Regions from separate parts of the Homo sapiens genome. Here region 2 is linked to region 1. Evidence: fine-mapped expression QTL. Tissue or cell type: monocytes after Pam3CSK4. Region 1 holds a variant in brackets; the other region holds the start of a gene. All regions are shown on one strand. Distances are between the middles of the regions.

Region 1 (8,105 bases):
AAATGGCAAAGAGGTTTGCATTGTAGTTTCTGTAAAGGGAATAGCTATGTAAAAAGAAGTAGTGATTGAGCATTAGGAAGGAAAACCAACATTTACGGATTTCAATTAGTGTTGCATCATTCTTGCATTTAACTTATGCACTGACTTGCAAGCCTACCCCAGTGTAGATATAACATCCTGGCATTTATCTTGTGTGCACTGCCCTAGGTGTTACCATATATATATATATATGTTTTATATATATTTTTTTCTCACTTAATTCCCCCAAAGATTCTGAGACAGGTTTTTGTAAATCTTACCTCAGGAAGCTAAAGCATGGAGAAATTTACCCAGAGCTGGAGCTTGAGGCTATATATTTTTTTTTTTCTGAGGATAGGGAGAGATGATACTGTGTATGGTAAACTTATTAATATTTGTTAATTCAGCCAACATTTTGTGTATACTGTATGCAAGATGCTAATAGATATGCTGGAGAAAATTAAGACAGTGAATGGATTTGATGCCCTGTGAAGCATAAGAGGTTACTGTTATTTCTAATTACTACAAGAATTCTTGCTTCTTGGTGCATAAGATCTACTGTGGGGAATAGTACAAGTGCTGACCATCTGACTTTAGAGCTGAACAGTTTGGGACTTGATCTCAGCTTCCCTATTCACTGGTTACTGGGAGCTTGTTTTCCTATCTGTAAGATAGAGGCAATAAAACCTAGCTTATCATGCGAGACTATTGAATGCAAGGAGAGAATATTAAAATTCATCCCAGTAAGTCCACTGTAGTCCTAGGCAGCATGACAGAGGTCACAGATCTTACAAGTAACATATCAATGGCAAGTTGGGGATAAGGATTTGGTTTTTAGGGTTTTACTTTCTGTTTTTGATGACTCTTATTTTTGAGAAAATGTGGAAGGAGTAAGTAGAAGAACAGTTTTTTTCAGTGCAACATCAGGCAAAAGAAAAGCAGATTTTTTTCAGATGGTTAAAGCCTATGGCAAAATAGCTAACTTTCTCTTTAAGGTGATTGGTAACCTGGAAAGGACAGCTGGCGTGGGCAGAAAACTTGTTCAAGACAAACACTGTCCCAGCATTTTTTAAATTCCAGACATTACCCTGGGGCAAACACCTCAACTTTTTCTTTCATACCACCTTCCAATATCTTACTCCTGAGCCTAGGGTGCTCAAACCAAACTCTGCTTCTGATGTGTTGTCAGTTTTCTCTAAAATCACTTATCTTCTGTGGGACTGGAGTCAGGCTGATGTGGAAGGCTCCCGCAAACCCTATTTAGGCTCTCTGGAGACAGAATGGGTGGTTGGAAATGGAAGGGGGAATGAGGGAAATTTAACCCCATAGAATATCTTCCCCATGAGAGTAGCTTAGCACTACACGAAGAAAGCTAAAAACCACAGACTTCCAGGGCTTGTCTGATACGCAGGTTCCCTTGAGTGCTCTAATAGGTATTAGAAATAATATGATAGGGAAACAAGCTCTTGTAGGGGAGGAAGAATCTTTTTCTCTACCTATCTTAGGTTCTCCGGCTGGGTCCTTGTGCATTAGACTGGCCAAAGACAGATGAACAAAAGTAAAGCAAGTTTATCAACACGTGCGTTGTTCATATAGGTAACATGGGAATACTCAGAGATAAGCAACTCAAAGATTTGGTTAGAACTTGGGTTTATACAGCATATTAGCCAAGGAACAATAAATTTTTAAAGAAATGACAAGATAAAGGATCTTGAGTCTCTAGGGGCAGCAAATTGTCGGAAAACAAATATATGGGAGACTAGTTGCAGATGAAGGCCAAATACTAAGGTTTATCATGTAGATTTTTCTTGTGTTGTCTCCAGGCTGACAGGGGTCTAAAATTGTCTCTGGTGATTAATCTTTGTCTTTCCTGGTAGAGCAGGAAGGAGGTACACCTTCGTAAACTTATATCCTGCTTTTTGGCAAATAGAGGGAGGGCAGAGTGCTTTTCTAGTACCGTGTACCTATTTGCTTCTTCCTAATTGCCTTCAGCTCAAAATAATCCTTAAACCAAAGTGGCATACACTGCCAATGCTCTTGAGTAGATTGAAGGCTCCAAAGTAAAAAGTGCTGTACTGTAGTATTGGATCTCCAAGCATCAGCAGTGAGTCAGGTATTACAATGCTGTTTTCAGTGAGTGTGCCATCCGTCTATGAGGAGAAATGAGAGGAGCTAGAAAAATAAACTGACAGCTAGAAAAATACTCCACTGAATCAACAAATAGACATTTCTTGAAACAGTAACATGCTCAATGTGCAATTTTGAAAAAGTAAACTGAGCAAGGATCATGAAACATGATGGTGGTGAGAATTTATACTTCTCAGGTAGCCAGGGGAAGCTAGGTTTCCACAGATTCCTTTGTCTTTCAGTCCTTTTGAAAACGGAGAAAAAGCAAGAGAAGAGGGACGGCACCATCAGGTAGAGTGGATCTCAGCTAGAATGAGGGGAAGTGGCCCAGAATCCAACCTCCTCCAAAGAGCTGTGTGACAGGCAAGTCCTATCCTTTCTGCACCTCTTTCCTTAAATGTAAGTTGAAGCATTTGGACCAGACTGTTTCAATGATCTTCTAGATTGCTTTTGCCAAAACAGAACTCTCCATTCCTGTAAGATAAGTACACAATGGCTCTCAGAGATCTAAAAACTGGCCTTGGTTACCTGCAAACTTTGAGGCCCCAAGGCACAAAAATAATAGCTTTTTTTTTTTATTTTTTTTTTTAAGGTTCATGAAAGCTTCGGACACAAAAGCTTATATGGTCTTCGTCTCTATAAATAAACCAGGGAGTAAAGAAAAACCCCGCTAGTTTCAGTAAAGCGTTGCTATTAAGCAAAGCAAACCTATGCAAATATCAAGTTCTTAATGAGGAGTGTTTCCTAAGGGGCCTGTCCTCTGGTACCCCGCCTCTCCTCTGCCACAGTCATGTGAAGGCAGACAGGCACACACTCGCACACTAGCACGCACTTGGGAGCTCAGGGAACATAACACTGGTTAGTGAGTCGGTGTCCCTCTCCCATCGATTGCAACTTTTCCCCTCCTTCCCTCTCCTGCCTCTCCCCACTTTCTACATCTCCGTTCTCAGGAAGGCTCAGGGAGGATCCCCCGCTGCGTGCACTGCGTTCTGAGAGGCCGGGGAGAGACTCTGGGCCCGCGGTCGGGGCGGAGCCAAGGTCCCAACCCACATTGAACGGGCTTGAGGATTACTTGGAGGGCTCAGGATCTAGGAGGAGGGCCCAGGGCACTGGGTTGGGGTTACTCTGGGAAAGCTCTGTGGGACCAGGTGGGACCTTAGGGCTGGAGATGGACTCTGCGAGCTGGGGGCGGAGTTCTAGACTGGCAGGAGCGGAGTTCTGGGTGGCGGGGGCGGGGTCGGGACCAGCAGGGACGGCCTCTGAGAGTTGGGGGCGGAATTCTGGGCCGGTGAGGGCTGGGGCGGGACCAGCAGGGGAGGCCTCCGCGAGCTAGGGGAGGAGCTCTGCATTGTCTGGGGCGGGGCTTCGAGTAGCGGTAGCGAGGTCTGGAGCCGCAGGCGCTGCCTCCGCGAGGTAGGGGAGGAGCTCTGTACTGTCAGGGGCGGGGCTCTGAGTAGCGAGGCCGGGTCTGAACTATCAGGCGCGGCCTCTGCGAGCTGGGGGCGGGGTTCTGCACCGGCGGGGGCGGGGTTGTGAGTGGTGGGGGCGGGGTCTGGAGCAGCAGGCGCCGCGTTTGCGAGCTAAGGTCGGAGTTCTGCACCGGCGGGGGCGGGGCTCTGCGTGGCCGGGGCGGGCTCGGGATCCGCGGGGCGACTCCCGGTCTGGCTTGGGCAGGCTGCCCGGGCCGTGGCAGGAAGCCGGAAGCAGCCGCGGCCCCAGTTCGGGAGACATGGCGGGCGTTAAAGGTACATCGCGGTCCCCGGCTCGCTTGTCGTGTGGTGGGGTTGCCACCTCCGTTCCGGTCAAGCCTGGGGCTGCGCCTTCCGCGCGCCGTTGGGGAACGGCCTCACCACCCTTCCCGCCTCTCCGGTTCGGGAGGCGATCGACCGCTCCCTTCGTCCCTTGGGGTGTGGGTGGAGCGGCGTTTCGGGGGAGCCTTGGCCCTTTTTGCAAGGCCGCTGGCCTTCCTGCTCTCCAGTGGCGGCACCAGACCCCTCCCCAGCCTGAGCCCTCGGCGAGAGCGGCGCCCTCCACCTCTCCTGAGTTTTTAAACAAGGTTTCCACTTCTTGACGCCACCCTAACGCCTTTCTTCTGGTTTTCTGCCCCTCCGCAGTTTCCTATTTGCCACAAAGGACCCTTTGTCTCCAGCGTTCTTAGCATTGGGAAACTTAATCCTCTTTTTCCTAATGATTTTTCCAACTGGGCAGAGTTGACCGCGGGCGGGTGTCAATGGAAAGCACCCAGAAAGACGGTGTTTCTCGCAGTCGTGGAGAGTAGATTACGTGTAATTTTAATACTGCTTTCTTCGGTGTTTTCTCTGTTTATGGACAGAGAAGAAACCAGTGTGTGTGTAGTATGTGTTTTTTGCATGGGGCAGTTGGTAAAAACACCGCGTCCCTTATCTGTATGGCTTCAGAGCAATGCGAGACGGAAAAGGTTTTTTGCAAGGCTTCCTGTATTTTGGTAGGAAAACATTCCATTTCTAATCTGTCGAATAGAGTAGCATGACTTGTTTTTATATTGGCTTTTATATCATCCTTGAAATTTGCACCCAAAGATATCCCCAGTTAACATCTGCTATAAACATGTAGATAGTATATATACGAGTACGCCTCTGTTCACTATGAATTTATCCGAGTATGTGAGCTGTTAGCAGCAGACATTTTATCGTTATTTCTGGCTGACTTTTATACTTAATATCAGTTTAGTAAACATGGTTTACTTGGAGAGTGTCGACTGTGTTATATATCCATTTGAAGCCAATGCCGAAAACAGATGAAAAGTAGTGTCTCAGTACTACACATGATCAGAAACTACCAAATCATGAT[C/G]ACGTTTATGTGTGAATGTGTTAGAAAATTGTGATGTAGTGAAAAAAAAGGAAGTCTGAAATGGAAACGGACTAAGGGAAGGAAGCATTTTACAGATTGTTCAACTTTTATTGAGGAACTACTGTATGCCAGAGACTTAGGATACAAAGATAAATGAGAAGTTATTGGTGGGTGACAGAGCTGGAAATAATTATATTACTATGTCAGTGTTTATGTTGGGCTCAGATGCGGTGGGAGAACAGATGGTGGGTTGGATTTTGTCCTCCAAAAAGATGTGTTCAAGCTCTAATTCCCTGGTACCTGTGAATGTGATCTTATTTGGAAGTAGTATCTTTGCAGATATAATCAAATTAAAATGATAACTGGTTTAAGGTGGGCCCTAATCCAATGACTGGTGTCCTTATAAGAAGAGGGGAATTTAGACATAGAGACATACAGGGAGAATACCATGGGAAGACGGAGACAGAAATTGGAGTGATGCAGCTACAAAGTCAGGAGCACCAAAGATTGTTGGCAACCATGCTGGCAACCACTGAGTGTTAGGAAGAGGCAAGGAAGGGTGCTTCCCTACAGCCTTCAGAGGGAGTGTGGTGGCGCTGCTGACACCTTGATTTCAGAAGTCCAGCCTCCAGAACTGTCAGAAGATAAATTTCTGTTGTTCTCAGCCATCCAGTTTGTGGTACTTTGTAACGGCAGCCCTAGGAAGCTGATGCAGGTGGGATTGATTCCCCTGCTCCAGAGAAAGGACTGTTTTCACAGAAGAGGCGATGCTTGAACTGAATCTGAAGGGATCAATGTGGCTTCCCTTGGCAAGGCATGGAGTGAAGGTGGAGTATATCCCAAGTGGGGAGGACAGCACGTGACATGGCGCAGGGCTTATGAAACAACATGCCTTCTTCTCTTCAGGTACTTAAGCTACATTAGTAAGACCAGAACTTAGTGGTGAGGGTTGAAGCTGGCTGGACAGGCAGTTAGGAGTGAGTCAGGCGATGGTGAGCCTCCGTGCCAGAACAACTTGTAGGCTGTGGAAGCAACCGCAAAGGGATGGCAGCGGTGATATATATAGTTGAAAGATCACTGTCTGCTGTGTAGAGGATGGATTGGAAGAGTCACAGAGGCAGGAATAAGAGGTTAAGGGCCTGCACCAGGGCTGTAGCAGAGAGTTTAAGAAGTCTGGGAGATTGAGTCACCTTGACCTACTGATTCATTGGAAGGTGGAATGCAATCATGGTGTCAGTCCTCTAAGATAGGACCTTTAAAGTGTAGGGATAGTGGTTTGGTTTTACACGTGTTACACATGTTGAATTTGAGGTTCTTGTTGGCGGTCAAGGCAGAGAAGTCCAGACTGGAGGTGGAAGTACAGGCCTAGTTCTTTAGGACCTACTCTGGGCTGGAGCATCAGTTGCGGCCGGGCCCTTGTGGTAGTAGGAGCTTTGGGTTGAACATAAGTTTTCAGCAGGAGTGCGTGGAGTGAAAAGAGAGATGGGGTTGGATTTTTGGTCAACTCCAACTTTAAGAGATTCAGAGGATGTGATTCCTGAAAAAAGAGGAAAAAAAAGACCAAAAAGAATCAAACAGAAAGATGGTTGTGAACGTTGAGAAACTGGTATCAGAACAGAAGGAAGAGGTCTGCAGTACCTAGCTTTGACAGGCCTCATGGAGGAGGGGGTACTGCCGATGGTCAGGCACAGAGGAGAGGAGCAAAGCCTGCTGGGAAAAGATCATCTGAATGAAATAGTATGTGGTATTTGCTTTCCATCCACACATGGGCATTTTCCATTAAAGAGTGGAAATGTAAAAAGATATGTTAAAATTGACAGTGTTTCTTTGTCCCTTAACATGTGTATACTTTCAGATGTTTTTTAAAAAGCACTTTGGCACCTTCCTATTAAAGAGTCTCTCTAAATCTTCTCTCAAGTAAAAGGAAGCAATCAAAAATGTTCATTGGCTTAATTAATTAGTTTAATACTAATTATGAGTATTATGGACTTTTTTCAGAAGAAAATTTGGATAAGATAGTCTCCTATGCTTTTGATTTCTACCTTTATCAAAGAACATTGCTAAAATGAGTAGATACCTGAGTCAGTCAGCATTTATTTGGCTACCTCCTTTTGCCAAGCACTTTACATAGATTATCTCATTTAATTCCCATAAGCTCAATAAGGTGGCACCATTATTTCCATTTTACAGGTGAGAAATCAGGTTCAGAGGATTAGCTTCTACCCAAAGTCATAAGACCAGATGGTGGCAGAGTTAAGATTTGACTCATGTTTGTGACTCAGAGCTCAAGATTTTGTAACAACCTTGATACTCTGTTTCTCACTCAGCAGCACAACAAGGGCAAATACGTTCCTACTCCCGCAGAGACTAGTGTCCAATAGATACAGGGAATACATATTTTATTCAGTGCACACTAGTTGGGAATTGTTTCCTACAAAGACATGAAAACAATCTTCAAATACTTGCAGTACTGTGGTTTGGGGAGGCAAAATGATCAAAGGTATATATTACAGGGAGGCAGTTCTGGATATAATTTAAAGAAGGAGGGCTTTCAACATTTAGAAGCTGTTGGAATTAAATGACTTGCCTTGGGAGGTAGTGAGTTTTCCTTCACTGGAGTTATGTGGACCAACTGGCTGCCCTCTGGTGACAAATACAGAGGGAATTCATCCATTGGATAGGGGTTAGGTACTGGAATTACTTGAGACCTTTGTATACTTTATGATTTCAAGGTGGCAGACATGGGTCATTGTCTTAATCAGTTTGGGCTACTATAAGAAATATATTTTAGACTGGGTGGCTTAAACAACAAACATTTAGTTTCCACAGTTCTGAAGACTGGGAAGTCCAAAATTGTGGTGCAGTCAGATCTGGTGTCTGGTGAGAGCCAGCTTCCTGGTTTGCAGGCCTGCTTTCTGCTCTCACATTGGAGAACAGAGGGAGAGAAACACAGAGAGAGTGTGTGCTCTACTTTCTCTCTTCTTATAAGGGCACTCATCCCATCGTGGAGACCCCACCCTCATGACCTCATCTGAACCTAATTATCTCCCAAAGGTCCACCTCCTGATAGCATCTCACGGTGAGAGGGATGGAGCCGGGAAGGTTTCAACATGTGAATTTGAAAGGGACAC
Region 2 (8,105 bases), 110 kb before region 1:
ACCTCAGCCTCCCAAAGTGCCAGGACCACAGGTGTGAGCCACCACACCTGGCTGGCAACTTCAATTTTAATCAATGTATTATATTCTCTGGAAATGAAAATCACAGATCAAAATCCTACATAGGTCATGGCATACATACCTTGATCTCTTAGCCCACCCCAAAAGTGATGTGGCATCTGCTGTGACAGGATAGCATTTGGAATGAGGTGTGTATGAAGGGGATGGGGTGGAATAGAGCCTGGTTCCTCAGTATTCCTCAGTGTCACTAATCTTCATCAAGTTAATAAAGCACCTGAAGGCAGCAAGAGAAAAGACAAAGGGAATGATTGCTGTCCCCAGAAGAGGGCATCTTATCCTTTGCCGTTGTCTCATGTATGATGTAGTATTTTTGAGATAAGTTATGAAGTAGTCTTGAGTTTGGAAAACCAAGAGTTAGGCTGTAAATGTTCACCTTGTGTTTGACCAGTGCCACCTCCCTTAAGCCCAAATTCTCATTCAAAGTTACAAAGACAATTTTCCATTAGGATATCCCTGGAAAAAATAATATTTAGCCTTTATTGAGCTTTTCCCATTTGAAAAACTAAGACTGCCAGGCGCTGAGCTTAAAGCTGCACCCAAGACAGACCAATAATGGTAATAGAGAACAATTGTTAAGTACTACTCTCTCTCTCAATCTGTTTCTCTCTCTCTCTCTCTCTCTCTCTCTCTCTCTCTCTCTCTCTCTCTATATATATATATATATATATATGTTAGGTACTAATCTAATTCTTCTATATAATGATGGTACTCATATTATGCTTGTTTTATAGAGTAGAACAGTGAGATATTCATTGATAAGTATATGAATTTGATCTTTAGCACAGTAAAGAAAATTTTAATGTTGAAATTGGTGCATATCCAAATTTAGGCCCAAGCCCTAGTTTTTAGGCTGTTGTAAATTAACCTAGTTATTGTATTTTCCTGCCTTAATATGCTTCTTATATCTTCAATTTTATAGGATTATTAATAGTTATCCTGATTGACTTTATTTATATTAAGTATAAAGATAAAATTCTTATAGCCCATTCAGATTTTTCTTTACACTTGCAAACTCCAGAGATAGATATTGAAAAATACAAAGGCATATGTCTCATCTATAATTTCTTTCAGCAATATGTCTGCAAGTTGAGCAAAAATAACTGAAAGTGCTCTTTTTGAAAATAATAATTTTCACTTTTCAAAAATGATCCTGTATTTATTTATTTATTTTTTGAGACAGGGTCTCAGTCTGTCACTGAGGCTGGTTCTAAATTCTATTAATCCAATGATTATAGTCCAGCATTTGTCAGGGCACATGATGAACACTAGGTATTTACTGTCCCTGTGTGTCTGTAATGAATTAAAAGAAAAAGTACAGAGAAAGATTATTTAAGATGTTATGGGAAAAGATTTACTAGACTTCACAGAATTATTACTTTAGTCAAGTAACTAAAATAATTCAATCTGACAGATTTGGAAAATTGAAAGTATAAAAATTTGTTTTAAAATTTTTATTGCAGTTTTTCCTGCCACCATTCAGATTGTTTGATCTTGTTATAAATGAGCATTAACTCTGATTTGCAATTCAGGTCACACCATACCTCATCAAAGAATGCAGTTGGGAAAGCAACTGGCCAGGAAGTTTAGGTTTCCCCAGAAGGACTGGAAGGATTTAGAAAACATTTCTTTGGACTTCTTCTGGTTGATGCTCTTCCTACAAGAATCTGTGTTTGGGTGATCCTTGTACAGGAAAATGTCTCTTAGTCCAATTTATTTTATGTAGAACTGTGTAGAGCTAGAGCTTCCCGGAAACTTTCTGAGACCCAAATCATCTGGACTGAAGTCTCTTAGATGCTATTGTTTGATTTTGTGTCCTTAGGTGATTGATATAAGGACAGCAAGAGAAAACCATGTAAGATGAGAAGAAAGCAAAGCTGGCTTTGTGTATGGGCTCAAGTACATTTTACATGCACGTACTTTTTTCCTGTTTTGGTGAGGAAACTCTGTCAAATGACTCTTGACGGGCGCCTCACTTAGTCCCTCCAAGTTTTAGTAGAGAAAATGATAATTTTTAACCAAGACTTACTTGATCTTGACCTAAGATGATGAGAATGAGCAATCCTTCTGAAATCTTATTATTTTAGGTGAAAATAAACATTCGATAATTACATTTTAAGACTTACCAGAGTTTATCCAGGTTTTGTTCAGATCCAGAACTTATACAATGTCGGAGTCTTCTTTTAAGAATACACGATGACAGATACAAAATTAGGTACACAGCTTAATTAACTTCATGATAAATTCTCTTCTGATTATGAGTTACTGCTTTCTTTGGCCAGAATTGTGAAAGAAAAATAAGGCGTGAGGCTAGAGGATGGGGAAAAAAAATCCTTGTCTATCTTGCTTCCCAAGCAGGCCTTCAAGCTAGCTAACTGAAACAGTCTTTTCTCCAGGTCCTAAGGTAAATGGTGGCGGATCTGAAAATGCGTCGGACTTAACCTTGCCCTTCTCCCCAGTTTATTCGCTCAACAAAGAGTTCTAAACAGTCACATCTGCTCTCTAGGCAGAACGGACGCTGCCTCCTAGTATTAGAATACCCAACTCTTTGATATCTCCCTTAGGGATCATCCCTATTCTGGAGAATGTGCAAAATATTGCTCTTCCTTTATATCCTAGCATAGATATATTCTGGCACTTAACATGCATTCTTTTTCTGTTGAATTGAGTTACAAGTCAGTTCTCTAGGACGGTTACCGTCCTGGTGGCTTTGGCGGAATCTTCCGGTGAAAATAGGCTAAGTTGCATGAAATGGGTGTGTCTGGATTTTACCACAAGACCCCTGGTCCTCAAAGCTTCGCAGGCCGAGATACCTCGCCCCTTTCTTCTCTGTCACACGCGTGCGAACACACCCTCCCAACCCACGTCGTAGTAGTCCCCTCCCCCGACCACCCCGCCCCGTTTCCCTTCAACCCCCCTCCTCACGAACCTCCCCTCCCTTCCTACCTCCCTTTCCTTCCCTCCCCGCGGGCCAGCGGCTTTGGCGCTGCCCTGCTGCGCGGCGGGGCGACGCGGCGACACCTATAGGATTGCTTCCGGGCACTCCTCAGCCAGGAGGTGCTGGCCTGGGGCCCGGAGCTCGGCAGGGCCGGGCGGCTCCGCGGCGTTGGCCCAGAGGACGCGCGCCCCCGCCCGGCCGCGTCTCCTTCCCTCCCTCCCTCCTCCCGGCGCCCCGAGCCGAGCTCAGCCCAGGGCGGCGGCTTCGCCTCGCCCGGCGAAGCTTCTCTCCGGTGGCCGCTCCTTCTTTTCCCTCCTCTTTGCGTCATGTCGGGCACTTAATTTTTTTTTTTTTTTAATTCCTTCTTCAGCCCTTTCCACCTTCCATCTCCCTTTTCGCTTCCCAGGTTGATTATTTTCTCTTTTCTCCGGGCTTGCCCATGAGCCTCCTCGGGAGCTACCGGAAAAAGACCAGCAACGATGGTTATGAATCTTTGCAGCTGGTGGACAGTAACGGGGACTTAAGTGCGGGAAGCGGCGGGGTTGGCGGCAAGCAGAGAGTGAACGCCGGGGCAGCGGCGCGGAGTCCCGCCCGACAGCCTCCGGACCGCGCCAGCACCATGGACAGCTCAGGTAGCGCTGCCCGAGGGGAGTGCAGCGCTGAGCCCCGCGCGGCCTCCGGAGCCTCCCAGTCGCCCGGCCCGAGGCCCCCCCGTGGTCCCCCAGCCCCGGTTTGCGAGAGAGCCGGGCTGGAGGCGAAGGCTTCTAATACCACCTGGGTGTCGAGTCTCTAATTTCTCTCATCCAGGGAGCTACGAAACGTTAGATCAGTCCTGAGGCCCAGAGACTGTAGCGAGCTCCTCCTAATCTCTCTAGACTGCTGAATACGGCAGCTGGGGGCGGGGAGGGGGAGGGAAGGAGGAGGGGAGGGGTGGAGAAGAGAGGGGAGCGGGTGGGGCGAAGAACGGCTTGGGAGGAGGGCTGGGAGAGGCAGCTGCTTTCACTGCCCAGCTGGATGAGGGGGAGAGGTGAAGGAGCATGTGCGTTGATTGTTTTTGCAGCATGCAGACGGTATTTATTCCAATTGTTATTCTTGCAATGCTGATGCTATTTGCAATTCTGTAAAGCTCTGCCACATCTTAACTCAGCCGTCTGCTAGGGTTAATGTTACCTTTCTCCTGCAGTTTTTAACCTGGGATCTAGAGCTCTTTTACACAGCTTTTACTGTTTGCACAATGAAATTTATTTCATGTGTTGGCTTTGATCTTGTTTGTCCTTTTGCTTGAGTGTACAGATTTCATAAACCTTTACATGTAGGGACAAGGAAATTCCTCTAAACTTTGTATCGGGGCTTGCAACTGTCTTTTATAAAAGGTTTGGCAAGTTAGAGTCCTCTCTTGGAACTGCTGTTGGCATTTGCGATTTCAATAGCAAAACAGTCATTTAATATATCCATGTTGGACTAGGAGTATTATTATAGCTATTTGCTTACTTCTGCAGGGAACCAGGTTCGGAGAATTGTTTACAGAGATATTTATAATTGAAGTCCTCAGTGGTTGGTTCTACACTGGTAACTTTAATACTGGACAACTGAGGATTCCAGAGGAAAGATTCATATGGGGTCGTTTGAACAGTAATGAAATCAAACTGAATTTAAATGCCCTGCTTTGCAAACAAATGCTTGTTTATTTTAATTGTGTAATGGCTGTCCTTGGGCTATTATTTTCTATTTTCCTTGTCCCAAAGTGGGATGAAATATTGTCCACAGATGCTCAAATGTCCTGGGCTGAAAACAAATTCTACTCATTGAAGCTCTTATTGAAGTTAACCAAGATATTGATGGGACATTCTCTTAGACCATTTTAAATAAAACTAAAATGATCCCCAAGGGATTGATGGTTTCAGGACTGTTTTTTTTTTTTTTTTTTTTTTTTTTTGAGGCGGAGTCTCACTCTGTTGCCCGGGCTGGAGTGCAGGGATGCGAACTCGGCGGACTGCAAACTCCGTTTCCCGGGTTCAAGCGATTCTCCTGCCTCAGCCTCCTGAGTAGCTGGGATTACAGGCACCTGTCACCATGCCCGGCTAATTTTTGTACTTTTAGTAGAGACGGGGTTTTGCCATGTTGGCCGGGCTGGTCTTGAACTCCTGACCTCAGGTGATCTGCCTGCCTCGGCCTCCCAAAGTGCTGGGATTACAGGCATGAGCCACCGCGCCCAGGCAGGACTTTTTTATTGATGTTGTATGTGGTTATTCAATGTATGTTTTTTCAAATCTGTGATATATCAAAGTGTAATCCATCTTTTGACTGGATGTAATCTCCTTTAAATCTTAAAAAGATTCATGTTCTCTGAATGATGCCACCATAATAATGTTTACATGTAGTGAGCATGTAAACAATTGAAATGAAAACAAACATATTCCAAATGAGTGTGAAGGAGCCTCACTTCAGGAAAATGAAAGAAATATGAAATACATATGTTTTCCTTTTTCATAGGGATTATTATTTTAAGAGTTGAAATTGGTTTTTGAAATATGTTACATTGTAGAATAAGTTCAACATACATTTTCTGAGCCCAGCTATGTGCCAAGCACTGTGAGGGAACACAGTAGTGAATGAGATCCTTCTGGCCTCTAGGGGACTCTCAGTGGGGGCAGTAACTATAACACAGAGCAGCCTATGGTAAGTCCTGGATTTTTGAGGATTGTCTTTTTCACTAAATCAGACTTTTTTAATAGGTGGAGAGAAGAATAATGGATTGCTTTAATAATCTGTTGTGATGGGAAAGTGTTTCATTAAGAATATTGTTATCTCTAAAGTGCTATTGCCAGGAGTTGATTCTTAAACTTGATCAAAGTGGTGTTGTGTGAAGAGGCTGCAGGGATTCCTTTTCTCCTCCCCTTATCCATCATTCACTCCTATATTTTATTAGGGGAATATTGTGGCTTTGTTGTAGAAGTACAGGGTATCTTACAATGATTTTGATGCATATTTTCAACTGAGAATGATTTGTTTGGTTTGAATGAAGGATTGGACTCTGAGAGTAGGATTCTTTTACTAGTACAACTATATGTCTTGCCTAATTATAGTTCTTTCTTCTAAGATCCTCAAAGTGTGGCCTGTGCAGTGTAAATATATCCATTTGTTTAGTATATCTAATTAAGTTCATGGATCATTTCTAAAGTGGCAGTAATCTGCCCATTTATTCAACTGATTGTACTGTGACATGCTGGATAGGATCAGTGGTTTATGGGACTTTTGCTCTGATAGAAATATTAATGAGTGGAAAAAATATGTTGACATCTCGCTACATGATTTAAAGCTTAGTCTTAATAATACCTTAAACTTGTAAGACTGTTTATAATAGAACACTTGGACAATTCTCTTATTTCATTTCCCCAGAATTTTATTAAATAGGTTGGGGAAGCAGCATGTGTCTGTGCTTGGAGACTTGGGATCAAACCTCTGCATTATTGTTACTCGCTGAAAAACCTAGTAACCTTTTTCTTTTCTTTTCTAGACAGATAGCTCTGTCACCCAGGCTGGAGTGCAGTGGTGCGATCTCAGCTCATTGCAACCTCCACCTCCCGGGTTCAGACAATTCTTGTGTTTCAGCCCCTCAAGTAGCTGGGATTACAGGCGTGCACCACCACACCCGGCTAATTTTTGTATTTTTAGTAGAGACGGGCTCTTGCCATGTTGGCCAGGCTGGTCTCGGACTCCTGGTCTCAAGTGATCTGCCCGCCTTGACATCCCAAAGTGCTGTGATTACAGGGTCTTGCTCCATTGCCCAGGCTGGAGTGCAGTGGTGTGATCATGGCTCACTGCAGTCTGGACCTCCTGGGCTCAAATGACCCTCCTGCCTCAGCCTCTTGAGTAGCTGGGACTACAGGTATGAACCACCATGCCTGGCTAATTTTTTTTTTTTTTTTCTTTGTAGAGATGGGGTTTTTTGCCATGTTGCCCAGGCTGGTCTCAAACTCCTGGGCTCAAGCGATCTGACCACCTCGGCCTCCCTCCCAAAGTGCTCGGATTACAGACATGAACCACCATGCTTGGCCTGTTCCCATTTATAAAAGTGGAATCATAAGAGCTGTTCTTACCACAGAGCTTTAGTTGAGGCTGAAAACAATATAAAAATACATTTGCAGTTTTTCTTTACTTTGTATCTTGCCCTTTCAATTTATCATATGAAGAAACTTATTCTCAGAGGTGGTAGGAGACCTATCAAAGGTAGAATAGATAATGACAGCCAGACTTAGGTCTTCTGACTCAAAGGTTTGAGTTTTTCCCCATTGAACTAAACTTTTGGGTAGACACAATATCAACTGATTGTTGAAATGGAAACATTTTTATCTACTTTGATTTCCCCCCTGTTTTTAGATAAAAGAGGGGTACATGTTCAGAGGAATGTAATGGCTTTCTAAGTCAACAGCCTCTCAAGTGGTAGATACCAGAGCAGTCTCCTAGCCAGATGTGACTTCCAGAGCTCTCTGCCTTCCCTGGCTCACTTTCTCTTCATTCAAATTATTCTCTAGAAAAGGTTGTCATTTAAAGGTCATCCTGTCATATCTCAAAGGCACTGCACTATCCCAATGCCGAAAACCCCCTATTTCTCTTGTGTGCACCCCACTTTTCAGGGAAAGTAGAACCACAAAAGTAGAACTTTCAATATTGAGCTGCTAAAGTGTTCCAATATTGGGCTTAATTTACCAAGTTCATAATGACAAACTGAAAAAGAGTAGTCCAATTAAAATCTGGAAACAGATATTAATACTTTTTAAAGAATAAGTATAATGATAGGTAAGGATTTCTCTTTTGATTCTCACTTTTTAGGCTTTGTTCTATATATTTAAATATATAGAAATTCACATATATAAATAAACAAAATATTGTATATATTAAAAAAAAAGAATAAGGATAATGAACAATGCTAAAATACCATGTAGTGTGAGTCTGGTTGGAAACAAAAATTACCTTTAACAAATTCTATTTTAGTTAGTGTTTAAACACAGCATCCACATTTTGAACCAGGTTTCAACATTATGAGATACGTGTTTGGATAATTGTATACTTCATGGAAGTATAATAAACA

Evidence for each region. PIP is the estimated chance that this variant, and not a neighbour inherited with it, causes the effect.
Region 2: DNAJC6 starts here. The variant in region 1 is fine-mapped to the expression of DNAJC6 in monocytes after Pam3CSK4 (Quach 2016, PIP 0.90).

Annotation. Positions count from the first base shown.
Region 1 is chr1:65,416,851-65,424,955 of GRCh38, forward strand. It overlaps LEPR (leptin receptor), which reads left to right and starts at 3,818. Exons shown (of 20, transcript NM_002303.6): 1 at 3,818-3,890. It overlaps LEPROT (leptin receptor overlapping transcript), which reads left to right and starts at 3,818. Exons shown (of 4, transcript NM_017526.5): 1 at 3,818-3,890. The coding sequence starts at 3,875. RefSeq lists enhancers at 3,132-3,664, 3,665-4,198, 4,272-4,321 and silencers at 3,312-3,381, 3,402-3,901. The variant C/G (reference allele first, on the strand shown) is at 4,975.
Region 2 is chr1:65,306,294-65,314,398 of GRCh38, forward strand. It overlaps DNAJC6 (DnaJ heat shock protein family (Hsp40) member C6), which reads left to right and starts at 3,250. Exons shown (of 19, transcript NM_001256864.2): 1 at 3,250-3,645. The coding sequence starts at 3,453. DNAJC6-AS1 (DNAJC6 antisense RNA 1) reads right to left here and starts at 2,941. Exons shown (of 3, transcript XR_007066155.1): 1 at 2,202-2,941; 2 at 140-292. LOC112268227 (a long non-coding RNA gene) reads left to right here and starts at 4,951. Exons shown (of 2, transcript XR_002958317.2): 1 at 4,951-8,105.